Homo sapiens: one gene and its partners. The protein of the gene in region 5 purifies or fractionates together with the protein of the main gene of each other region. This does not show direct contact. Each region holds a gene or a part of one and is shown on either strand. Other genes may lie near its edges.

Region 1 (3,226 bases), about 15 Mb from region 5:
GTTTCAGGAGGAAGCCCTCAGTGGGCGAGCTGGACGCGCCCTCGGTCCCCACATACTGCTCCACGTACCGAGCCAGGTGCTGGGGACAGGGAGAGACACAGCCCGTGATGCCCCTACAGCAGGGCTATGGCCACTCTTACTCTGGACTCTGAGTTCAGGAGCTCACAGGGGTTCTGTGCCCCCCACTGCCAGAGCATGAGGAGAGCCGCTGCAGAGGACTCTGATCCCTGACGGAGACCCCAACAGACTATAGCTCTTGACAGAGGACCCAGTGACAGCGGGACTCACACAACCAGGCCACAGCTGAGGAGCGCCAGAAGCCCCCGGAAGCTGGAAGAGCAGGAAGGATCCGCCCCAGAGCCTTTGGCAGGAGCACCGCCCGGCCCACACTGTGGTTGTGGACTGCTGACCTCCAGGACGTTGAGGGAATAGACTTCTGTTGTTTGAAGCCACGTGGTTTGTGGTCATTGTGGTGGTAGCCCCAGGAAATGAATGGGGTTGGCCTAGCTGAGTAATGTGCACACACACTGGACCTGTTGGCAGGTGCCGGGAGCTGCAGGCCCCAATGACCACCCTGGGGACACACACGGGTCAATGCCTCACTGTCACCAGGATGCGGGAGGTGAGCAGGAAACATCTGTCCCCGCAAAAATTGTGACTGGGAGCTGGGCCCAGGTGGCTCCTCTGCTGGGGATTAGGAACAGGATGCAGCCCTGACACAAGAGGTGCAGAGGTCACAGCCACGGGATGCCCTGAGTGGGAGTCGGGGGCCAGGGAGAGGTGGCTTGGTTCCCCTCCTGCCCTGGGACACAACCGCTTGCTCAGGAGGAGTGGTCTGCTCTTTGGAGAGGGGGCACAGAAGAGAGCCTGGTGGGGGAGCAGGGAGGGAGGCAACCCCACCCACCAGGCCTCAAGGAGAGCCTGTGGCCTGCAGAGGGAGGGTCTCTGGATGCTGCGCGGCCTGCGCTTGGCTGGTGGGAGCCCCATGCTGCTGCCCTCAGGCGCTCCCTGGTATGCGTGGCACAGACTGGGGCCAGGGCCTCACCTGGACCTCCACAGGGTCCTCCGTCTGGGCCTCCTCGGTGTCCAGGAGCTCGATGGTCATGATCACCTGCCCTTTGCGCTGCAGGAACATCACCTGCGGAGCAGGAACGCTGACAGCCTCCACTGCCGGCACAGCCCAGCCGGCACAGCGCAGGCTCGCAAGGCCACCCGCCTCCCGCCTTTGCCACCCTCCCAAAGCCCTGATGCTTCCTGCAGGTCAAAGGTACCTCATGGGCTCTGCAGCAGGGCCGGTGTCCCAGCCGCTGAACCAGGGTCCACCCAGGACTGAGTCCAGAGCGGAGTGAGCGGCCGGGCCTCCCGGCGTGTTCCCAGCCCCAGGCCTCCTCTCACCTTGAAGCAGTTCTCGTCGGCCATGCAGCGCTCAGCCTTCCACTGGTAGCTGGTCTCCCTAGCAGCGCGGACGCAGCGGGAGGACAGGTTCCCACCAGCGGCACCCCGCTTCTTCTCGTTCAGGTAGAGCTCCACCACCTTCAGGCAGACGTCATCGCTCACGAGGTGGTGCAGCTGGCGGGAGGAAAGCAGGTGGTGCGGCCACCCCGCCTCCTGCGGGAGTCCCCACCTCACCCACAGAGGAAGTCGACAAAGGCCAGAAACACATCAGGATGGAGAGTGCATGACACAGGGATGAAGAGACCAGAATCCTGACAGGCTGTGGGCAGACCAGACCAAACAGACCAGACCAGACCAGACCAGACCAGACCAAACAGACCAGACCAGACCAGACCAAACCAAACAGACCAGACCAGACCAAACAGACCAGACCAGACCAGACCAGACCAGACCAAACAGACCAGACCAAACAGACCAGACCAGACCAAACCGACCAGACCAGACCAAACCAGACCAGACCAGACCGAACCGACCAGACCAGACCAGACCAGACCAGACCAAACAGACCAGACCAGACCAGACCAAACAGACCAGACCAGACCAGACCCAAACCAGACCAAAACCAGACCAGACCAAACCAAAACCAAACCAGACCAGACCAGACCAGACCAGACCAAACAGACCAGACCAAACAGACCAGACCAGACCAAACAGACCAGACCAGACCAAACCAGACCAGACCCAAACCAGACCAAAACCAGACCAGACCAGACCCAAACCAGACCAAAACCAGACCAGACCAAACAGACCAGACCAGACCAAACCAGACCAGACCAAACAGACCAGACCAGACCAAACCAGACCAGACCAAACAGACCAGACCAGACCAAACCAGACCAGACCCAAACCAGACCAGACCCAAACCAGACCAAAACCAGACCAGACCAGACCCAAACCAGACCAAAACCAGACCAGACCAGACCAAACAGACCAGACCAGACCAGACCAAACCAGACCAGACAGACCAGACCAGACCAGACCAGACCAAACAGACCAGACCAGACCAGACCCAAACCAGACCAAAACCAGACCAGACCAAACCAAAACCAAACCAGACCAGACCAGATCAGACCAAACTAAACCAGACCAGACCAAACCAAAACCAAACCAAACCAGACCAAAACCAGACCAGACCAGACCAAACCAGACCAAACCAAAACCTAACCAAACCAAACCAAACCAGACCAAATCAAATCAGACCAGACCAAAACCAGACCAGATCAGATCAGACCAAACCAAAACCAACCAAACTAGACCAGATTAGACCAGACCAAAACCAGACCAGACCAGACTAGACCAGACTAAAACCAAACCAAACCAGACCAAATCAAATCAGACCAGACCAAAACCAGACCAGATCAGATCAGACCAAACCACACCAAACCAGACCAAACCAAAACCAACCAAACTAGACCAGATTAGACCATACCAAAACCAGACCAGACCAGACTAAAACCAAACCAAACCAGACCAAACAGACCAGATCAGACCAAACCAAAACCAAACCAAACCAGGCCAGATCAGATCAGACCAGACCAGACCAAAACCAGACCAGACCAGACCAAACCAAAACCACACCAAACCAGACCAGACCAAATCAGACCAAATCAAAACCAAACCAAACCAGACCAGACCAGACCAGATCAGAGCAGACCAAATCAGACCAAATCAAAACCAAACCACACCAGACCAGATGAGACCAGACCAAAACCAGACCAGACCAAATCAGACCAAACCAAAACCAAACCAAATCAGACCAAAGCCAGACCAG
Region 2 (3,500 bases), about 14 Mb from region 5:
GGAAGTGAGGAGCGTCTCCGCCTGGCCGCCCATCGTCTGGGATGTGAGGAGCCCCTCTGCCTGGCTGCCCAGTCTGGAAAGTGAGGAGCGTCTCTGCCCGGCCGCCATCCCATCTAGGAAGTGAGGAGCGCCTCTTCCCGGCCGCCATCACATCTGGGAAGTGAGGAGCGTCTCTGCCCAGCCGCCCATTGTCTGAGATGTGGGGAGCACCTCTGCCCTGCCGCCCCGTCCGGGATGTGAGGAGCGTCTCTGCCTGGCCGCCCTGTCTGAGAAGTGAGGAGACCCTCTGCCTGGCAACCGCCCCGTCTGAGAAGTGAGGAGCCCCTCCGCCCGGCAGCCGCCCCGTCTGAGAAGTAAGGAGCCCCTCCGCCCAGCAGCCACCCCGTCTGGGAAGTGAGGAGCGTCTCCGCCCGGCAGCCACCTTGTCCGGGAGGGAGGTGGGGGGATCAGCCCCCCGCCCGGCCAGCCGCCCCGTCTGGGAGGTGAGGGGCGCCTCTGCCCAGCCGCCCCTACTGGGAAGTGAGGAGACCCTCTGCCCGGCCAGCCGCTCCGTCCGGGAGGGAGGTGGGGGGGGGTCAGCCCCCCGCCCGGCCAGCCGCCCCGTCCGGGAAGTGAGGGGCGCCTCTGCCCGGCCGCCCCTACTGGGAAGTGAGGAGCCCCCCTGCCCGGCCAGCCGCCCCGTCCGGGAGGGAGGTGGGGGGGGTCAGCCCCCCGCCCGGCCAGCCGCACCGTCCGGGAGGGAGGTGGGGGGGTCAGCCCCCTCGCCCAGCCAGCCGCCCCGTCCAGGAGGTGAGGGGCGCCTCTGCCCGGCCGCCCCTACTGGGAAGTGAGGAGCCCCTCTGCCCAGCCACCACCCTGTCTGGGAGGTGTACCCAACAGCTCATTGAGAACGGGCCATGATGACAATGGCGGTTTTGTGGAATAGAAAGGCGGGAAAGGTGGGGAAAAGATTGAGAAATCGGATGGTTGCTGTGTCTGTGTAGAAAGAGGTAGACGTGGGAGACTTTTCATTTTGTTCTATACTAAGAAAAATTCTTCTGCCTTGGGATCCTGTTGATCTGTGACCTTACCCCCAACCCTGTGCTCTCTGAAACATGTGCTGTGTCCACTCAGGGTTAAATGGATTAAGGGCGGTGCAAGATGTGCTTTGTTAAACAGATGCTTGAAGGCAGCATGCCAAGAGTCGTCACCACTCCCTAATCTCAAGTACCCAGGGACACAAACACTGCCAAATCTCCCTCTGCGAGAAACACCCAAGAATGATCAATAAAAATAAATAAATAAATAAATAAATAAATAAATAAATAAATTGGCAGTGGGCAAAAAAAAAAAAAAAAAGAAACAGGATTTTCAGTAATTTTTTTTCTTTCCTTTTTTTTTTTTTTTTTTTGGAGATGGAGTTTTGCTCTTGTTGCCGAGGCTGGAGTGCAATGGTGCGATCTCAGCTAACCGCAACCTCTAACACCCAGGTTCAAGCGATTCTCCTGCCTCAGCCTCCCGAGTAGCTGGGATTACAGGGGCCCGCCACCAAGCCTGGCTAAATTTTTGTATTTTTATTTTATTTTATTTATTTATTTTTTTGAGACGGAGTCTCCCTCTGTTGCCCAGGCTGGAGTGCAGTGGTGCGATCTTGGCTCACTGCAACCTCCGCCTCCCAGGTTCAAGTGATTCTCCTGCGTCAGCCTCCCGAGTAGCTGGGATTACAGGCGCCCACCACCACTCCCAGTTAATTTTTGTATTGTGAGTAGAGACGTGGTTTCACCATGGTGGCTAGGTTGGTCTCGAACTCCTGACCTCGTGATTGACCCACCTCAGCCTCCCAAAGTGCTGGGATTAAAGGCGTGAGCCACCGCGCCCAGCCTATTTTTTTTTTGTATTTTTAGTAGAGACAGGGTTTCACCATGTTGGCTAGGCTGGTCTCGAACTCCTGACCTCAGGTGATCCACCTGCCTTAGCCTCCCCAAAGTGCTGGGATTACAGGCGTGAGCCACCGCACCCAGACTTTTCTTTTTCTCGAGATGAGATTTCACTGTATTGCTCAGGCTGTTCTCAAACTCCTGGGCTCAAGCGATCCTCCCACCTCAGCCTCCCAAGTAGCTGGGATTAGAGGTGCATGCCACCGCACTCAGCCAGGGAAAGTGGCTGCTGAACCAAGAGTTCCGACTTCCCAAAGGGCAACAGAATGGCAGTTACCCAAACTTCCCCAGCTGAAGAATGGGAACACAGGCTTGCAGGTATCTCAGGAAAATGACTCGCATAGTAATCTGCTGGCACTGCAGCCCCTCTGGCCCCAAAGCCCCTGAGAAAACACCAGAAAGCTGCAACTGCTTGGAACTGGGGACGCCCTAGGCTCTGGCTGGCAGCTCTTGGGGCCCAGCATCTAGCTTCACAGCTTCTCAGATGAGTTCCTCTCTGCAGGAACTGGGATGACATAAGGCAACCTCATTTTACGTGCAGACAAAACACCTCGCACAATTCAAAACACAAAACCCAGTATCAGTTCTGCCATGAGACTACACGTAAAGACATGTCACATCAAATTCTACAGATAAAAAGTGAGGCTTCTTTGTCACAGGCTTTCAAAGTCTCCCCAAATGCAACCACGCTGCATGGCAAGGGAGAGCAGCCTGCAGGCCCCCAGGCCACCACACTGGGGTGCTCCCTCCCTGGCTCTCTCCTGGAGGCTCCTGCCCCTTCTGGTGTAGGGGTGCAGGCCCTGTGGCACTCAGGACTTCACCTCTGCCAACTCCACATGCCTGGCTTCTGACCTCTGACAAGCAACATGAAGACACCTCCGCTTCTGCAGACAGCCCCTACGTAGGCGGGGAGGGGACAATCTCCCGGGGCTCATACACAGCACTGTCAGGAAGCTACTGATGAGCTGTGTGCTTCCCTGCTACACCTCTGCCTCCCCGTGAGAATTCCTCCAAGTCCCTTCGAGATCCTCAGTCATGGCCAGGCGCGGTGGTTCATGCCTGTACTCCCAGCACTTTGGGAGACCAAGGTGCGTGGATCACCTGAGGTCAGGAGTTTGAGACCAGTCTGGCCAACATGGTGAAACCCCGTCACTACTAAAAGTACAAAAATTAGCTGGGTGTGGTGGCGGGCGCCTGTAATTCCAGCTACTTGGGAGGCGGAGGTAGGAGGATCACTTGAGCCCAGGAGGTGGACTGTTGCAGTGAGCTGAGATCGTGCCACTGCACTCTAGGATGGGTGACACAGCAAGACTCCATCTCAAAGGATAAAAAAAAAAAAAAAGAAAAAGATCCTCAGTCACTAGCGCACACTCTGAAGGTTTCTTTTTTTTTTTTTAAAAAAAGTCACCTGTTCATTGGAAGAACATACAAGATGAAAAAAAAGCAAAAAGAAAAAAAAAAAAAGCAAAAAGTAGTAAAAAAAAAATGTCATCTCTATACCCTTCTCCCAGTACTCTGGGAGGCCAACGCAGGAAGATCTCTTGAGGCTAGTTCAACAGCCCAAGCAACAGAGAAAGACCCCTA
Region 3 (4,031 bases), on a different chromosome or scaffold from region 5:
TCTGATTTTGATTGATGACAAATCCACAGACACTTCTAAGACTACTGTGGATGTGTTGCCCACATTCATAGGCCAAGGAAACGTTGTGTTTCAGTTAGAGCTTAGTGAAAATAAAGTTCACAGAATCTCTGAATTCTATTCAAGGACCCTTTGGAGGCCTGTAAACCCCAGGTGAAGCTCTGAAAGCCAAAAAAGAGAAGTGTTTCTGTAAAGTATATTTCACCAGATTACCTGGCAGCAACCAGAAAAGACAATTTAAGTTTCACTATTTACAGAACTTTATCATACAGACAAAGCTTTCTAAATTTCAGAACAACTGTTTTTAAAAAGAAATACTAGTCCGGGTGCGGTGGCTCAAGCCTGTAATCCTAGCACTTTGGGAGGCCAAGGCGGGTGATCTCCTGGGGTCCAGGAGTTGGAGTCCAGCCTGACGAACATGGCAAAATCCCGTCTCTACTAAAAATATAAAAATTAGTGGGGCGTGGTGGCGCGCGCCTGTAACCCCAGCTTACTCAGGAGGCTGAGGCAGAAGAATTGCTTGAACCCAGGAGACGGAGGTTGCAGTGAGCCGAGATCGCGCTACTGCACTCCAGCCCGGGCAACTTAGCAGATTCCATCAAGACAGACACACAAAAAGAGGCCAGGCGCGGTGGCTCACGCCTGTAATCCCAGCACTTTGGGAGGCCGAGGCGGACGGATCACAAGATCAGGAGATCGAGACCATCCTGGCTAACACGGTGAAACCCCGTCTCTACTAAAAATACAAAAATTAGCCAGGCGTGGTGGCGGGCGCCTGCAGTCCCAGCTACTCGGGAGGCTGAGGCAGGAGAATGGCGTGAACCCAGGAGGCGGAGTTTGCAGTAAACTGAGATCTGGCCACTGCACTCCAGCCTGAGCGACAGAGCGAGACTCTGTCTCAAAAAAAAAAAAAAAAAAAAAAGAAAGAAAATAAGACAGACAGAAAGACAGATAGTAGATGGAAAGAAAGACAGAAAGGAAAGAAAGACAGGAAGGAAGGAAAGGAAGGAAGGAAGGAAGGAGAAAAGAAAAGAAAAAGAAAGAAAACAGTCGTTTTGAAAAGAAAAAAAAATAACTGCCTATCTCCTATGATTCAAAAATGTTCACGGACTCTTGGCTACAAGAGATCAGTAACACTTTCAAAGAAGCCGTCCCTGACCAAAGGGAACACACACATACTTCATCCACCCACTGGAAACTGTATTATTCTTTGTCTACTCCACTAGATTTAAACATGAGGGTGAGGACTTATTCACCACTCTACCTCCAGCACTAAAAGAAGGCCTGACACACAGTGGACCCTTGACAAATATTAATATATATCAGATAAATGGATTAAAATATGTCACTTTAAAGTGTTTGCAAATCGAATTCCTGGAATCGGGACATCTACTGGTTGAGGCTTAACATCGATTTAGGATTAAATTTACTCCCTTACATTTATATATCATTTTACAAAATGCTTCTGCCCACGTTACCTCATTCAATCCTTCCTTCTGTAGTAAAGAAACTGGAAGATATATTTAGTAAACAATAAGGATTTTATAATTGGCTTAGAAGTTAGATAAAAGGGGCCTTTTTAAAAATCCATCCAAGGGTCATAAACCGATAAGCCAAAATAAAACGAATTTGTCTAGAAGTCAGTCATTATAACAGGATCTAGCCTCGTGGTCTGACTTCCACAGATTTGAGGAAGAGAAAAAAAGTTTATTTTCCAGACTCTCTTGGCTGGGGCGCCATTCTTTCACAGCTTCAGATAAACAGAAAGAAAAGGTAAACAACATGCGCCACTCTTAGGAAACTACCTCCCGGTCAAGTTGGGAAAGCCAGCAAAGGACTGCTGAAACACCCAAGTACTTCCGAACCAACTCCTGCGGGACTTCTCCCCATCTCTCCCGCCGCTGTCCTGCGGGCCCCGGGGCTTGCCTGACGCCGGGAAGTATTGTGAACCTTGTTTATGTCCCAGTGTCAGGGCCGCACAGTGATAGTAACATCTCGGGTATCGCGCGGCTTGCGTCCGGGACGGCCAGCTGGGTGCCCCGAGTCCTGGGGGACCCTAGTAGGGACAGATCCTCAGCCGAGCCCCTCCTGGAGCCCCCAACGGGCCCGAGGGGGATCCCGGCCAGGCTGCGGAAGAAGAGCCGCAGCCATGGCAGGCGGCGGTCCCCGGCAGGGCTGAGTGGGATCTGGAGACATTTTTTAATAACAGGAGCATTTTGTGCCTTTCAGGGTTTCTACAAAGTGGCCGCATTCCGGCCCCAAAGTCAGCAGGCCTGAAAGCGTGCAGGCAGGCGCGTGGGAAGGAGTTTACTTCCAATTTGAGCAACGGCTGCTCCAGAGGTTGGCAGAGCCCCATTCCACGGGGAAAGTGGTGGGTGCCGGGCGAAGCGCCGCGCATTCCCTCACACTCCCCGGGTGCAGCAGGCCTCGTGCCCTCCCCGGGGCCCCCAACCATTGGCCAGTCCACCCCCCCCCCGACAGGCTGAGGGCTCAGGAGTGGCACTATTTCGTTACCTCTCTGCGCGGAGGCGAGTGAGGAGGTGATGAGCCGGACGGCCGCCGCGCCGCAAGTACAAGCACCGCAGCTGGGCATCTCCGCGAGGCCTAGGCCGGGGCTTCGCCCCCTGAGGACCTCCGGGTCACAGCGGCGTGAATCCTGCCCGCAAGGCGCGCTGACTCGGTTCCGAACCCTTTCGCGGGCCCTAGACCCCGTGGAGAGTTCACCTGCCCGGCAGCCAGGCCTTCACGCTTCTCTGCCCCACAGCCGTCTATTCACCAGAGTAGACACCCAACCCCCCCCTCCCTTCCCCTCCTTCTCCTTCTACCCCCACCCCCAGCCTACTGGGCCCGGGGAGCTTGCGCGCGCCTGCGCCCTAGGCCCGGGGAGGGGGCGGAGGGCGTGGGCACGCGCCGTGTTTGCGAGCTGGTGAAGCTACGTGAGGCGAAGGCGAGGGGGTGGTGCCCTGGGCGCCAATGAGTTCCCTACGGCAAGCGTCTAGCCCCAACTGGGGCGACTACAGGTCCCGACGCTCAAGGTTGCCAAAAGCCCTTTTATCCTAAAGTTGAAAGGTTTTGCGATAGACGCGGAGAGATGCATGCCGGGACTTGTAGTCCCGAGTCGTCATAGTCGAGCTCTTCCGGTCACTTTTAGTGGGCGGCAGGGAAGGTCAAGGTGAGGCTGGTGGCTTAACCCTCCAGGGGGAAGTCTCTAAAGTGCCTTGGTAGGCGCTGGATGCTTCAGATTCACTAAATTTCTTCCCCCGGAATTCCACATCCTGTGTTCCTTATCTTCTCATTCTCCTTAGTTTCATCACTTGTAACATGGAGTTGGTATTGTCAGTTAGTTCCCTGAGCAGCAATTGTTAGTTGGTAACAGCTCCGTCTCCTTGTTCTTTCAGGCCTCGTGGTGATAAAGCTTCTAGCTGTTGCTAGTCCGTGGGTGCTTTAAAGTCTTGAGGGTTTTCTTTTCTTTCTTTCTTTTTTTTAATTTAGTAAAGATGAGGTCTCCCTATGTTGCCCAGGCTGGTCTCAAACTCCTGGGCTCAAGTGATCCTCTCGCCTCGCCCTCCCAAAGTGCTGGGATTACAGGCGTGAGCCACCGCACCCGGCCGTGATTAAGGATGGCACTGCATAGATAACCTCTGGTCAGGTTCCTATCAGGCCATCCTCTCAAGTTATGAATTCAAAAGCACAGAGCCGGCTGGGCGTGGTGGCTCACACCTGTAATCCCAGCACTTTGGGAGGCCGAGGCAGGTGGATCACGAGGTCAGGAGTTTGCGACCAGCCTGACCCACATGGTGAAACCCCATCTCTACTAAAAATACAAAAATTAGGTAGGTGTGGTGGCGTACTCCTGTAATCCCAGCTACTCAGGAGGCTGAGGTGGGAGAATTGCTTGAACCCAGGAGGCGAAGGTTGCAGTGAGCCGATATCGTGCCATTGCACTCCAGCCTGGGCGACAGAGCGAGACTCCGTCTCAAAAAAAAAAAAAAAAAACCCAGAGCCATCTGAGA
Region 4 (3,500 bases), on a different chromosome or scaffold from region 5:
GGAGGCAGAGGTTGCAGTAAGCCTTGTGCCACTGTACTCCAGCCTGGACAACAGAGCAAGACTCCATCTCAAAAAATAAATAAATAAAACCTCAACCAGTCACTATGTCTTCCTTCCTGCCCTTCCCCTCCGCCCTGCTGTACACACACAGAGCCCTACCTCCACCCCACTGGCTTGTCCCACAGCCTCTCCCAACTTTCACTTCCCCGCACCAATGCTCAGTGCTACCAGCTCAAATGCTTCCACCTAACTCTCTCTCCTCTTTCACCAGAAAATCACCTTCCTTAAACACACATCTGATCCCGTCACCTGCCAACTCCCCATCATCTACTCCATCAAGCCCAAACTTCTTAGGACACACTTAAGTGCCTTCTAGGAAGCAACCACACTCAACCCCATCTTCCGTGGAATCTCTCGTTCATCCCTCTCATCTCAGACCCCTTTCCCACCGGCATCTGTGCCTCTGCCCACTGTTCCCTCACTCAGAAACCCTCTCCTTGACTATCCAAATTCCTCCCAGCCTTCAAGGTGCAGCCCCTCCACCCAAGGCTTTCCTGTGCTCTGGCAGCCCCATGACTCCCTAGGGCACACACCACTCATGCCCTTATATTCAGTTGCCTGGTCCATGTCCTAAAGCACCTAATAAACCGTGGAGAGTCTTACACGCAGAAACTGTTTCATTTCCCTGTACTCCACAGCACCTTGTACGCCTTACATGTAGCAAATGTTTAAAAAAAAAAAAAAAGTCTGGGCCGGGTGCGGTGGCTCACGCCTGTAATCCCAACACTTTGGAAGGTTGAGGCGGGCAGTTCATGAAGTCAGGAGTTCAAGACCAGCCTGGCCAACATGGTGAAACCCCATCTCTACTAAAATACAAAAATTAGCCAAGCATGGTGGTGAGCACCTGTAATCCCAGCTACTCAGGAGGCTAAGGCAGGAGAATCGCTTGAACCCAGGAGGCAGAGGTTGCAGTGAGCCGAGATCGTGCCACTGCACTCCAGTCTGGACAATACAGTAAGAATCCGTCTCCAAAAAAACAGTTTGCTATACCATCTCACCTCTCCCCGAAGACAAACAAAAACTGACCATCCCCTTCCGAAACATACAGACCATACTGCTGGCCTTCGGTTTTTCACAGCTTAAAACACCTCATCTGACCATTACCAAAAAGCATCTGCTACCCTTGAAATTATTCCCCAACCCCCCTGGGTCTTGTTCCCAGATGTAAAAGGAAAATCTTCTAATCTGAATTTTTACCTCTCACCTGGCTCCCCACTTCACATCCCCACCACTCAACTTAGGGTAACCAAAGGAAGTCTCCCCTGCAAGTAATGATTTGTAACTTCCTCCCCTATTTTCTCACTTTCACTCCCACACCACACCAAAAACTAAACAGAACTGATCACAGCAGCCTAAGAAAAACTTAATCAATTTTAACATTCTAAGATCTGTTATTGAAGTGCTATGTGGATGTTTAACCCGACTCTGATTACAGAGAAAGGACTGTGAAGCACTTAAGAGATTAGAGCAAGTCCAGACGCTCTCTACCAGTTATCTGTTGGCAAATAAAGTAAGATGGCTGCTGGGGCCCACAAGATGGCTGGGGCCCATAAAATGGCCGCTAGAGACTAAAAGACCACCTCCTCTGCCCCACCAGACACACAAAGCTGACACAGAATCTGTACCAGTGGTGCCCGAACCCGGCAATGCAAAATAATCGCAATAGTAGACAAGTTTTATTTTTGAGATGAAGTGTTGCTCTGTCACCCAGGCTGGAAGTGCAATGGCGTGGACTCGGCTCACTGCAACCTCCGCCTCTCGGGTTCAAGCAATTCTCCTACCTCAGCTTCCTGAGTAGCTAGCTGGGACTACAGGTGGCCACCACCATGTCTAGCTTTTTAGGCTGGGCGCGGTGGCTCACGCCTGTAATCCTAGCACTTTGGGAGGCTGAAGAGGGCGGATCATGAGGTCAGGAGATTGAGACCATCCTGGCTAACATGGTGAAACCCCGTCTCTACTAAAAATATAAAAAAATTAGCTGGGCGTGGTGGTGGGCGCCTGCAGTCCCAAGTACTTGGGAGGCTGAGGCAGGTGAATGGCTTGAACCCGGGAGGCGGAGCTTGCAGTGAGCCGAGATCCCGCCACTGCACTCCAGCCTGGGCAACAGAGAGAGCCTCCATCTCAAAAAAAAAAAAACAACAACCACGTCTGGCTTTTTAGTAGAGGCTGGGTTTCACCATGTTGGCCAGACTGCAAAGTTTTAGAATCCAAAAAAATACACTCTTGGGCCTTGCTCTAACCTTGTAAATCTGAAAATCCCATGGGATGTGTATTTGTAAATATCTGCATGAGTCTGCTGCACAGCCAGGTTTGGGAGGCACTGGCTTGCAGGACTAAAAGCAGGAAGAAAGAGGCCAGGGTGGCTCACACCTATAATCCCAGCATTTTGGGAGGCCCAGGTGTGTGGATCGCCTGAGCAACATAGCAAAAACCCATCTCTACAACAAATACAAAAAAAGTTAGGCTGTGCACGGTGGCTCACACCTGTAATCCCAGCACTTTGGGAGGCCGAGGAGGGTGGATCACAAGGTCAAGAGATTGAAACCATCCCGGCCAACATAGTGAAACCTCACCTCCACTAAAAATACAAAAATTAGTTGGGTGTGGTGGCGTGCTCCTGTAATCTCAGCTACTTGGGAGGCTGAGGCAGGAGAATCGCTTGAGCCTGGGAGGCGAAGGCTGCAGTGAGCCAAGATCACACCACTGCACTCCAGCCTGGTGACAGAGCAAGACTCCATCTCAAAAAAACAAAAAATTAGCTAGGTACGGTGGTGTGGGCCTGTAGTCCCAGCTACTCAGGAGACTGAGGTGGGCAGATCACCTGAACCCAGGAGGTGGAGGCTGCAGTGTGAGCCATAATCACAGACACTGCACTAGAGCCTAAGTGATAGAGTGAGACCCTGTCTCTAAATAAATAAAAGCAGGAATTAAAGACCCTCACCTGATGCAACCATCAAATGTGCCTGGCTTGAATGGGATGCCCTGGCCCATATCCCCCAGCAGCAGGTCTCCCTCTATCTCTCGGTCCACAGCCTCATCTACATTAGAGAAAAGGCAGTCAGAGAAAGAGAAATACCTGTGGCTTCTCCACACCCATCAGGGTAATCCACCCTGGTGCCAGACAGGACATACTTACCCAGCATGGCAGGGCTGATATCCAGGCCCACCCAATAGTGCCCTTCATCTGACAGATAACTTCCACTCAGCCCAGTGCCACAGCTGGAAGACATGACCAGACACTCAGGGTCAGTTTACAAAGACACTTCACCACCTTAGACAATCTGAACCAGGCCCCAGAATCTCACCCAATATCCAGCAGGTAACAGGGCTTATTCTCTGGCAGATAAAGAAGCTCCAATGCTCGCCCAGCCATCCTGGTCTGGATATCAATCATCCGTGAGCTGGTAAGGCAGAAACACAAGTGGACATGGTAAAGGAGT
Region 5 (3,500 bases):
CGGCCAAAGTCAGCAAGGCAGGGACTGGAGGCCCAAGCCCGGTGCCAGCCTCCCCTGCAGCCTCTCTCACCCACCCACCCAGAGAGGGCGAGCTAGGGCCCCCACACCCGAGGACAGAGGAAAATAAATAAGCCAGGATTCCCTCCCGACCCCACTGAGTCAAATGTTCTTTGGAAGAACCCAGAGGTCCCCTCCCTCCCCATCCCAGGTCTCAGAAGCAACACCTGGAGCCCCTCCGGGCATCCTAACGCTGCCCCACTCCTGGCTCTACCCCCGAGGTCTGGGGGGCCAGGCAGCCCCTACCGTGGGCAGAACTTGTGGACACCTGAGATTGAGTACCCGAATGGGGGGTGGCTGGGCTGCACCCCCATTTCCCTGAACTACTCCCATGGCTTTCGGTGGGGTGGGGGTGGGGTGGGGAGAGGCAGGGGCCGTGTCAACCCCCGACTCCTCTATGGCTGTCTGAACACTTCATCCCAATCTGCAGGGATGGGGCAGGGGGTGCTTTCCCCGGGCCGGCTCCCAGAAGTCCACTCCACCCCCCCAAACCCCACCCCGGGAGGGGGGCAGCAGGGGGTGGTGGAGAGGAGAGGGGAGGACCTCCTAGCTGCCCTGGGGGGGCCCCGTTGCACAGATGGGAAGAAAGTTAGTATCATGGCTATTTACAGACACAAGCCCCCGTCACCCATCCTGAGAGCCACCTCTGAGGTCAGGCAGACCCAGGTCCAGTCTCAGGCCCCCTCCTCACTCTCTGGAGGGGGGCAGGGGTGTCTTCAGGGTTTGCCCACGGCTGGAAGGGGCCCAGGCTCCCCGTGGGTCCTCACTACACCCCTGGATGGCAGAAGCATCCTGGCGGTCAGGGTGGGCTGCACGAGGGCCCTACAGGCCTGCGGGGGCTGGGCTGGGCGCGGGGCTGGGCGCAGGGCTCCCGGCCAGGCTGCAGGGCAGCGAGTCGCTGGGGGAGGTACTGCGGGCACCAGGGCGCCGGAGCAGGTCCGGGTGGAAGCCGGGGTGGCGGCGGGCGTGCTTGGCCAGGTGGTCACTGCGGGTGAAGCGCTTGGAGCACAGAGGGCAGGAGAAGCGCTTCTCGCCCGTGTGCGTCCGGTGGTGGCGGGCCAGCTCGTCGGAGCGGGCGAACTTCTTGTCGCAGCCCTGCCAGTCACAAGCAAAAGGGCGTTCCCCTGGACGGAGAGACAGAGACAGACAGCGGGTCAGCGGGGGCGGGGGGAGATGACAGACACGTTCCAGCAGATCCCAAAGGGTGGCGGGCATTTGTCCCGTGCCGTTTTAGAGGCTGAGCTCTGGTGTGAGTTCAAAACATGGAGAAGCACAAAGAATACAACCCTTACCCGCCCCCCGGTGGCCCAACACGAGACCCTAATAAATAATCCTCTTATTTCCTACCAGCTCTTAGAAAGGACTCTCCGGCGAGCCCAGAATCTGTTAACCGTAAGTAACCGCCGCAGACCCCCAAGGCTGAAGCTCCCCAGGCCCTCGCAGCCTCTGGCCCCAGGCGGGACCCTGGCAGGGATTAGCAAAGGCCTCCCAGTGTCTGTCCCAGGCACAGGCACGCTCAGAAGGCATGCTCGGCCTTCAGGCTGTCCCTGCCCCCCACCCAGGGGCATGCAGGGGCCTCCATCTGTGCATGATCCCCTCCTTTTCCAAATGACCACCTGGGATGCAAAGGCTGGGTTAAGGGGGTACAATCATGGCAACCTCCCTAACCCTCCTGGCCCCTCCACGAGCAAGGGGGCATGGGAGGAACCCGCAGGCACAGTCAGTCTGGGCCCCGATCTCGGGGTGTGGTTAGATGGAAGACAGGCAGGAAAGCTCACAGGGAGGGGAGGGGGCGGGGTCTCCCGGGAAGGGGCGGGGCCCGGCGGGCTGGACTCGCCCCACCCCCACGGGACAGATGGCGCTGGGCAGGGGCGGGCCACCACCCGGCCACTTCCTCCACAGTCCCCTCCCACCGCCAAGGCCGGGCCTCGCCCATCCTGCCCCTAACCAGCCGTCACCATCTGGGCCTGCCTGTGCGCCTCCAGGCGGTGTGGGTCTTTGCTCTAGAACTGTGCCACCCGACCCCTTCCTTTAGCCGGGGTCTCACGCCCACAGCATGTGGCATCGTGATGTCAGCGTCTCCCCAGCAGATAGGGGTCTCCAACGACTGGGGAGGGGCAGGTCAGTCCACCTCCACCCAGGGACCGAAGCAGGACAAAGGGCCCTGCATCCCCGAAGCTCCCACCCTTTCGGGCCCTGCACCAGGTACCCTGGACCCTGGCATTCCGGGACGTTATTCCCGTGACACCCCAGGGTGGGTTGTGTGGATGGAGACCGGATGTGCATGCCCCTCGTGGCACTGGTTGGAGCCCTGAGTAGCAAAAGAGACGTCAGAACCAACTCCCCTGAGTGGCCCCAAAGCCTATTCTCAAGGAAGCCACAGCAGGGCCAGGAGGGTAGTCACCCGGTGGGTTACAAACTGGGCAGCCCACGCCCAGCACTGGAGGTTGCTCTGGCCCTGGGAGCACTCCCACCGGTCCATGAAGAACTGCAGCCAGCCAGGGGCCTAGAAGGACCCACAGCAGGGACCATGGTGAGGGGTACAGAGACGGCGGGAGGGGCACGGCCATGCTCAGGGTGACCGAGTGACATCTCTGCTCTAAGATCAGGGGCTGCCCTGGGGAGCCCAGCTGAGGAGGGGCACGGGAGGGTGGAGGGGTCTGCCCACTGAGGGGCACCAGCGATCACCCGTGACCCAAGAAGAGCTGGAAGAAAAAACCTTCCCTTCTCATCTCATCCTTCCTCCCTGCCACACCCCGACACCCTCAGCAAAACAAGACTGCAGACAGAGACCAGCAGCCCCCCTCCCCAAGAGGTTGTGAATCCAGGCAGCTGGAGAGGGGGAGAGACCAGCTGTCACCAAGACCAACAGTAGCCTCAAATCCCTGGGGCTGCCTGCTCCACACCCCAAGTCTCCCCCAAGCAACCCAGGATGCAGCTGGGGTCGCGGGTCCGCCCCAGCTGGGGGCCGTCTACAACCCAAGCAAGAGGCGCAGAGCAGCCCTGGAAGGGACCCCACTCCCATCTCAACCACTGGGCCCTGACAGCTCCCAAGGGCCTCAGTCTGGGGACGGGGTCTGGCTGTGGGAGCGCGGCTGGAGCAGACCACGGGATTGGGGCTCGCGCCCCTCCAGGGAACATGCCGCCGTGTCGCCATCTTGCAAGGCACAGGCGGGGAGGCGGCAGGAGGGAAGGGGGAACATCCCACGGCTGGGTGCCGGACAGTCAGTTGGTTCACTTCCCCTTTCAGGGCGGCGGGGCTGGTCTCCACTCCCTCTCCCCCAGTTCCACTTTGCAAGGAGGAGCAGGTTGCCGGGGTGGGGGGGGCGACCGGGGCAGGGGCGCGCAGCCGCTGGGAACACAGCTGCCGCACGTAGCTCGGCGGCGGCGGCGGGGACATCCGCAGCCCCAGCCGGCCCCGCTCACGTGGTCCCACTCCCGCC
Region 6 (3,500 bases), on a different chromosome or scaffold from region 5:
GCCAGTGTGGAGCCAAGATTAAATAGCCTGCTTTAAGCAATGAAAATTTCAACAATGTCACTCTATTCTCAACTATTTTACATTTCCACAAAGTTTTAAAAAATAGTTTAAATTGGCAAATTTCAACCATAGATGCAGATTAGAATCACTCGCGTATTTTTTTTTTTCAAACTAGACATATACGAGATCTATTCCACAGGGTGCCTAGATGCACATATTTCGGAAAAAGCTCACCAGGTAAATCTGACATGCACTCTGGTTAAGAATCTCTGACATAAATAATGTAATTTTAAAAACCTTATCAATGGGATGAGTCATTCAATACAATCTAAGTCAAAGATATTTATGTGTACTGTAAGTCAGGCATGGACCTAAGGATGTCAAGATAAAAACTTATTCTTATCTTCAAGGAATTTAAGAGTCTGTTAGGGAAGATAAGTTCATAAATGAATAATTGTAATATAGAGTGTTAAGTACAACAGAGATAATTATTAGGTTATAGTGAAAGTCTAAAATATATTTCATGACATGCTTATAAAGACAAAATTTTTATAGTTATGAAATAATTAATTACAGATTATCCTAACTACAGTAACTATAATTAGAATTACTTCAAATCCTACTAAAACATAAAGGCTATAATTTAACAAAATCTAAACTTAAGATTTGGGATTATAAGATATACTGTTTATAACTCTAAAATACTAATGCTGGTGGGGGGAAATTTTTTGGTTACTAGCTAAATGATTTTTAAAAAAAAAATCATTTGGGCTTTAGATCACAGGGGAAACAAAGAAAAACAAACAACAAAAAAACAAAATTGGGCTTAAAAGAACCATGCTTACCATGCACTTATAATGGGCAGCTGCCTTCTTGGCATTAAATATATGCAGTTTTCCTCGTGCTTCATTTTCTTCCTCCCCTACATGGCAAAATCCACATTTAGGCCTGGTGTCACTAGGGCTGCTTCTGTGTGGAGACCTATCTCTCTGCAAATGTAAAAGAAAAAACGAACTTAAAAAAAATCATGAAAATATGCTATCGGTATTTCAAGCTTACTTAACATTTCAAATGATGAACTTTACCTATAGATAGTTTAAATGAAATATTCATGGTGCAACAAAAGTAAGAATCCAACAGTTTTTTTTACTTACATAGGAACTACTTTCCATTTCATCTGTTCCATGGGAGGATGTGGACCTGGTATCTTCTGACAGCCCTTTAAAATTAGTTTTTCTTGGCCTTCCTTTGCGACTTTTCTTTTTACTTTTAGGTGATGAGGGCTCCAGTTCATGTTCATTAAAACTTTCTTCTAAATCAGCTGCTTAAAAATGAACAAAAACTTTTTATGGACCAATCTCAAAATAAGTATTAGTTCATGGGTCTTTAGGACATATGTTTCTCCTTAGAATGAAACTGTCTCCAGAAATGAGGAGAAATGGTCTGTGGTATGTTCAATAAAGCCACCCAATGTTTCAGATAAATGCAATAAAAATCAAATACAAATAGTTTAGTAAATTAATTTTTAGAGTTTGCTTTTGCATTATTATTTTTTTTTACCATAGGTTTCAAAGAGTTTGTAAAATTAGAACACTTACCTAGAAAATACACTTACTGTAACTTGGAAAACTAAATGAAAATAAAGTAGATATATCTGTGCTATTCAATGTAGTAGCCACTAGCAACATGTGGCCTTAAAAAATTTAAGTCAGTTATAATTAAATAAAATTAAAACTTCAGTTTCTTAGTCACACTGACCGCACTGCAAGAGCTTATTGGCTACATGTGGCTAGTTGCAACTGTATTAGACAGCACATATACAGGACTGTTGCCACTGTCACAGGAAAGTTCTACTGGATAACACTGGTCTAGATTACTCTTCAAACGATCATGAAAACTGAATGAACAAATTCAACAAGGAAGTCATTTACAATTGAACTAATGGATCAAGTAATTAAACAAATATTAAGTACAAAAAGAATTTCTAATACAAGCAGTAAAAAAAGTATGTTGCAAGTTAGTTGCATATGCTTTAATGAATTAAGCAAAACTTACGCAGAAATTTGAGAACTGCATTTCTCAGTAATCTGAAAAGAATTTCTACCATAATGAAAGGTGTTTCATCAGTAGTTTACTATAAATATTTTATTTATTGAAGGCCTCTGTATAAGATAATGTATTAATATTTAGTGTTTAAAAGGGTAATAAAAACCAAATGTTCACTTGCCATAGGCTCAAACTATGGAAAGTTTTAGGCACAGCTCTAATATTTTCGCCATTTTTTCCTTTACCATGTTATTGATTATAATTCTAGAGACTAATTTCTCAATGAGAAAGCATATCAACTCCTATGCTCAGACGTTAATATCTTTCCTACTACTTTGAAGGTTGTTTATTAGAAATGAAAGCACATTTATTATAAGAAAAGGGCAATTCAGTTGGTATACTTGAATATATATATAAATTAAGGGAACTACAAGTATTAGGTTGTTTGCAAAACAGTTAATAACAATTTACATGAGTGCAACTTCACATAGCTCTGGTGGGACTTGAGGGAGTTAAGGGGAAAAGGTAAAAGTTATTGCATAGTGTTTTATAGGCAACAAAATAAATTCACGTGAATAACTTCCTGTGAAGACACAGAAGTCAATTAAAGATGTTTTCTCTCCTTAACACGATAGCAAACTTCATGTCAGAATACACTACTTAATTTAAATATTCAAACTGACAATTTTTAAGACATGGAATTTCACTAAAAGCTGTTAGAATTACTTGCACTTGGCTGGGCGTGGTGGCTCACGCCTGTAATCCCAGCACTTTGGGAGGCCGAGGTGAACAGATCACGAGGTCAGGAGTTCGAGACCAGTCTGGCCAATATGGTGAAACCCCGTCTCTACTAAAAATACAAAAAATTAGCCGGGTGTGGTGGCGCACACCTGTAGTCCCAGCTAATCGGGAGGCTGAGGCAGAAGAATTGCTTGAACCCGGGAGGCGGAGGTTGCAGAGAGCCGAGATTGTGCCACTGCACTCCAGCCTGGGTGACAGAGCAAGATTCCATCTCAAAAAAGAATTACTTGCACTTGCCAAATATTAAAAATTCTCAAAATGAAAAATCATAACTGTTTCAATCATTCTAAGACATCTATGTGTATGTATATATAAAACATTGTTTTATACATATGTATACACATAATATATTCAGTTATCTATTATGAAAATAAGCATCACTAACACCATACATAACACTATTAAATAACATTTAATAGTTGTTTAATAAATAACAATAAACAAATAAGATGTTTAATAAATAACATTATTAAACATCTATAACATTTAATAATGTTATTTATTAAACATCTATAAAAATTACTTAAGAACTGATTCCATTATCAAGCCAACATGATTAGTTTCCCACATGTCATATTTGTTCTAAATATGAAATCATTCCACAAAAATTTTTAACAACTTTAACATCAATAGTAAAAGTCACGAAAGATTCA
Region 7 (3,500 bases), on a different chromosome or scaffold from region 5:
ACCATCGAACTGCAGATTTACAAATGGTTAAGGTGAAAATGTTTATGTCCTGTGTTTTTTCACCACAATTTTTTAAAAAGGCTAAATAGTACCAAATCATGCAAGAGAACAGTCTGAGAAAAAGAAAAGCAATAGGACAACAAGAGTTTGCATTTGGGGCAGTAACATTGAATGTCAAGGGTGAAGACAGAGCAAAATGAGGCCTCCAGGCTGCCACCACACTTCTGGCTCAAGCTGTTTCAGATCCAATTTAGAACAAGGCCTCCATTAGTCCTGAAGACTTAATGGTCCTTTTTTAAGGTCTCAAGGCTACATGGGCAAGAACTTATCATGGTTCCTCTAAAGACATCCTGAACAGAGTACACAGTTCCTCAAATCTTCACCTAGTCGTAGAAACAGCAGTAATCCTCAGTGGGTGGGAATTTTCCCCGACTGACCTAGCCATGGCCTAGATTGGATGCTCCAGCAAAGGGGCCTTGAGGACTCAAGTGTAGTTAGAAAAAGGAGAAGCCAAACATTCCATGCTCCATTTGTTAAAATATCCGCTCCACCCTTTTCTTAATTACAAATTTTAAGCTTCTTATGTCTGCTTTTTTCCTTAGATGCTGGCTAATGGAATTTGAATGCCTGGCCTTGACAACACTTAGAAAGAAAAGAAGGGGAATGTATTGCAATTTTTCCACAGCTGCAAAAAAAGCAGACATCATGTTATATCATAAAGTTATTCTCACAGTGGTGAATTGAGTGTTCACAAAATATCAATATGAATCTCTTTTCCAATGTGGAGACTTCTAATTCAAAGAGTAACTGTTCTGTTTTCTGTTCAACAAAGCAGTCATTTAAGACATCTGGATTTCAGTGTTGCTACATACTTAAAATGTAGTCCTTAATCTCCAAAAGACTGCAATTTGATTGGCTGTCTTTTGTATAATTTTTATACAAAAAAACTTCTCTGTTTATTTAAATCTTATTACCATATTAAACTAAAAGAGGAGCTCTGGCACTTTCTTCTCCCTCCATGCAGGAAGACTAATAAAATCCATGACTCCTCTGAATTCTTTATTTAAACAAAAGGTTTGAAAGTCTACTTCTCATTTAAATTAATGTAGGCTAATGGGACAGATGAGGATAGTAACAGGGGATGGAGGAACAAATTCAGTAAGTGTCCCTTGATGACAGATCAAGAGACTATAGTAAGAAATGGAAGGAATAAAATGCCAGGGAGACATGAGTTCCAGTACTTGCTTACTACTGTGAAAGGAAAAATAAATCTTGGGGCCCCAAAATCACTAAGCTAAAGAAAAACAGTCAAGCTGGGAACTGCTTGGGGCAAACATGCCTCCCATTCTTTATTTTTTTTTTTTTTTTTGAGACAGGGTCTCACTCCCTCACCCAGGCTAGAGTGCAGTGGCCCGATCTGGGATCACCACAACCTCCACCTCCCAGGCTCAAGCGATTCTCCTGCCTCAGCCTCCCGAGTAGCTGGGACTACAGGTGCACGCCACTACTGCCTAGCTAATCTTTGTATTTTTAGTAGTGATGGGTTTCACCATGTTGGCCAGGCTGGTCTCCTGACCTCAAATGATCCACCTGCCTCAGCCTCCCATAGTGCTGGAGTTACAGGCATGAGCCACTGCGCCCCACCGCCTCCCATTCTATTCAAAGTCACCCCTCTGCTCACTGACATAAATACATATCTGATTGCCTACTTTAGAGAGGCCAATCAGAAACTCAAAAGAATGCAACCATTTGTCTCTTATCTACCTATGACCTGGAAGCTCCCTTCCTACTTCCAGTTGTCTTGCCTTTGTTTCAAGTTGTCCCACCTTTCCAGACCAAAACCAATGTTCATCTTACGTATATTGATTGATGTGTCATATCTCCCTAAAATGTATAAAACCAAGCTGCGCTCAGACCACCTTGGGCACGTGTCATCAGAACTTCCTGAGGCTGTGTCGCAGGCGCACGTCCTTAACTTTGGCAAAATAAACTTACTAAATTGACTAAGACCTGTCTCAGATTTTGGGGGTTCACACTACTAACTTGGGAAAGGACTTCTCTTTCTCTAAGATGTCTTAATCTCTTCCACTATAAATATAATGAATAAAAATAGCTTCCTTTCTGATGTCTCTACTTTATTCTCTAACCACTGGATATAAGTATGCATGTAGTTCCAGCTCTGGTTACAAGAAGTCTTTGTTTTTGCTTTGAATAGCATTTATTTTTCTTTTACACCACATGTTTTATAGGGATAAGCACAGCTGAGCAAGATTTTAACCTGAGGCCCTTTGGGGCTGTTTTGCTGCAGATGCAAAGGTGGGATGGGGCTGTCAGATAGTTACCAGTGTTTTCCATAGAGCCAATGGCCTCCCCAGGTCAGCAGGCAGAGCCCAGCTGTAGTTTTCTTCCAGTGATTTCGAAGCGTTTTAAAGAACACCGTCATCTTCTAGAGATTTGCTAGGTTAGTAGAGGCGGAAAGAGAAAAAAATATAATTTATCCATGGTCTTCATGTAATGTCCCTATTACTCTGTCTTCCATTCTTTTATCCTCTCTCACTCCTTTTTTTCCCACTCACTCCTCTTCCTCCTTACCACTTCTCCTCTGGCCTCAGCTCATCTTCTCCCTTCTATTTCCATCATCTTCATCTTCTCATCCACCCACACATCCATCCACCTTTCTTTCTTCCTTCACGTATTTCCACCTAACCTATACTTCTTCCCTCTCTGATCACTATTTCTTCATTGCAATAGAAGGAAGAGGGAGGGGCAGAAAGAGAGGAAGGGAATTCCAGGCTTCCTCTGGTTTTTCTAACTCCTTACAGCCTCACTGTACCACTGTTTAAGAGTATACATTTGTCTATCCATCATAATGTAAGTGTCCCAAAAAATAATAATATGAAGGGCGAGTTCAAAATAGAAGAAAATACCAGGTCCTCAATAGGAAAAGAAACAGAAAACATGGATAGAAAACTCAATGAAGAGGCAATGTACATGGCTATCTAAAAATGTTCAACTTCCTGAATAATCAGACATGCATATTACAAAGAACTATCATTATTGACCAAAATAAATTTTTAAATGATCATATTCACTGATGACATAACAAAATGATAGACACTCATACACTCCTTTAAAGAAGGTAAATTAGGAAGACTTTACTAAAAAACAGAGTGACACTATAGAATATCTTTATTCTTCATGACATTTATTATTTGGTGATGCTTATATTCATTTGCTCATTTATTAGCCTAATCCTACTGGAATGTAAACTCCATGAGAGTAAGGACATAATTCTGGTCACTGCTGTATCCCATGCCTAAAGTAAGATCCGGCACACAATAGCTGTTTAAGAAATATTTGTTCAATGAATAAGTTAAATAGCAATTAAATATTTTTTTACCCAAAATTTTTACTGATGGGGGAAAAAACCCAAAACATAATGTTAAGTAAAATTAGCAGGATAAAAAGCCATATATAATTGGCATTATACCAATTATGTT

The links.
Region 1: the proteins of KLF16 (region 5) and SIN3B purify together in Homo sapiens (affinity purification with western blotting, with the first as the bait; one study listed by BioGRID). This does not show direct contact.
Region 2: the proteins of KLF16 (region 5) and AKAP8 purify together in Homo sapiens (affinity purification with mass spectrometry; one large-scale study listed by BioGRID and IntAct). This does not show direct contact.
Region 3: the proteins of KLF16 (region 5) and CLPX purify together in Homo sapiens (affinity purification with mass spectrometry; one large-scale study listed by BioGRID and IntAct). This does not show direct contact.
Region 4: the proteins of KLF16 (region 5) and BUD23 purify together in Homo sapiens (affinity purification with mass spectrometry; one large-scale study listed by BioGRID and IntAct). This does not show direct contact.
Region 6: the proteins of KLF16 (region 5) and PHF6 purify together in Homo sapiens (affinity purification with mass spectrometry; one large-scale study listed by BioGRID and IntAct). This does not show direct contact.
Region 7: the proteins of KLF16 (region 5) and AGK purify together in Homo sapiens (affinity purification with mass spectrometry; one large-scale study listed by BioGRID and IntAct). This does not show direct contact.

The regions. Positions count from the first base shown.
Region 1 is NC_000019.10:16,874,398-16,877,623, reverse strand, and holds part of SIN3B (paired amphipathic helix protein Sin3b), read right to left. Parts: intron 1,570-3,226; coding exon 1,396-1,569; intron 1,139-1,395; coding exon 1,046-1,138; intron 80-1,045; coding exon 1-79.
Region 2 is NC_000019.10:15,362,788-15,366,287, forward strand, and holds part of AKAP8 (A-kinase anchor protein 8), read right to left. Parts: intron 1-3,500. UniProt on the Homo sapiens protein: Anchoring protein that mediates the subcellular compartmentation of cAMP-dependent protein kinase (PKA type II).
Region 3 is NC_000015.10:65,182,543-65,186,573, forward strand, and holds the start of CLPX (ATP-dependent clpX-like chaperone, mitochondrial precursor), read right to left. Parts: upstream 2,801-4,031; 5' UTR 2,612-2,800; coding exon 2,533-2,611; intron 1-2,532. UniProt on the Homo sapiens protein: ATP-dependent chaperone that functions as an unfoldase.
Region 4 is NC_000007.14:73,686,597-73,690,096, reverse strand, and holds part of BUD23 (18S rRNA (guanine-N(7))-methyltransferase), read right to left. Parts: intron 3,462-3,500; coding exon 3,366-3,461; intron 3,280-3,365; coding exon 3,197-3,279; intron 3,099-3,196; coding exon 3,002-3,098; intron 1-3,001.
Region 5 is NC_000019.10:1,853,580-1,857,079, forward strand, and holds part of KLF16 (Krueppel-like factor 16), read right to left. Parts: intron 1,182-3,500; coding exon 880-1,181; 3' UTR 1-879. UniProt on the Homo sapiens protein: Transcription factor that binds GC and GT boxes and displaces Sp1 and Sp3 from these sequences. Modulates dopaminergic transmission in the brain.
Region 6 is NC_000023.11:134,411,312-134,414,811, reverse strand, and holds part of PHF6 (PHD finger protein 6), read right to left. Parts: intron 1,325-3,500; coding exon of another isoform or gene 1,322-1,324; coding exon 1,155-1,321; intron 990-1,154; coding exon 846-989; intron 1-845.
Region 7 is NC_000007.14:141,554,410-141,557,909, reverse strand, and holds part of AGK (acylglycerol kinase, mitochondrial isoform 1 precursor), read right to left. Parts: exon of another isoform or gene 2,593-3,500; intron 2,458-2,592; 5' UTR 2,444-2,457; coding exon 2,343-2,443; intron 1-2,342. UniProt on the Homo sapiens protein: Lipid kinase that can phosphorylate both monoacylglycerol and diacylglycerol to form lysophosphatidic acid (LPA) and phosphatidic acid (PA), respectively. Does not phosphorylate sphingosine. Phosphorylates ceramide.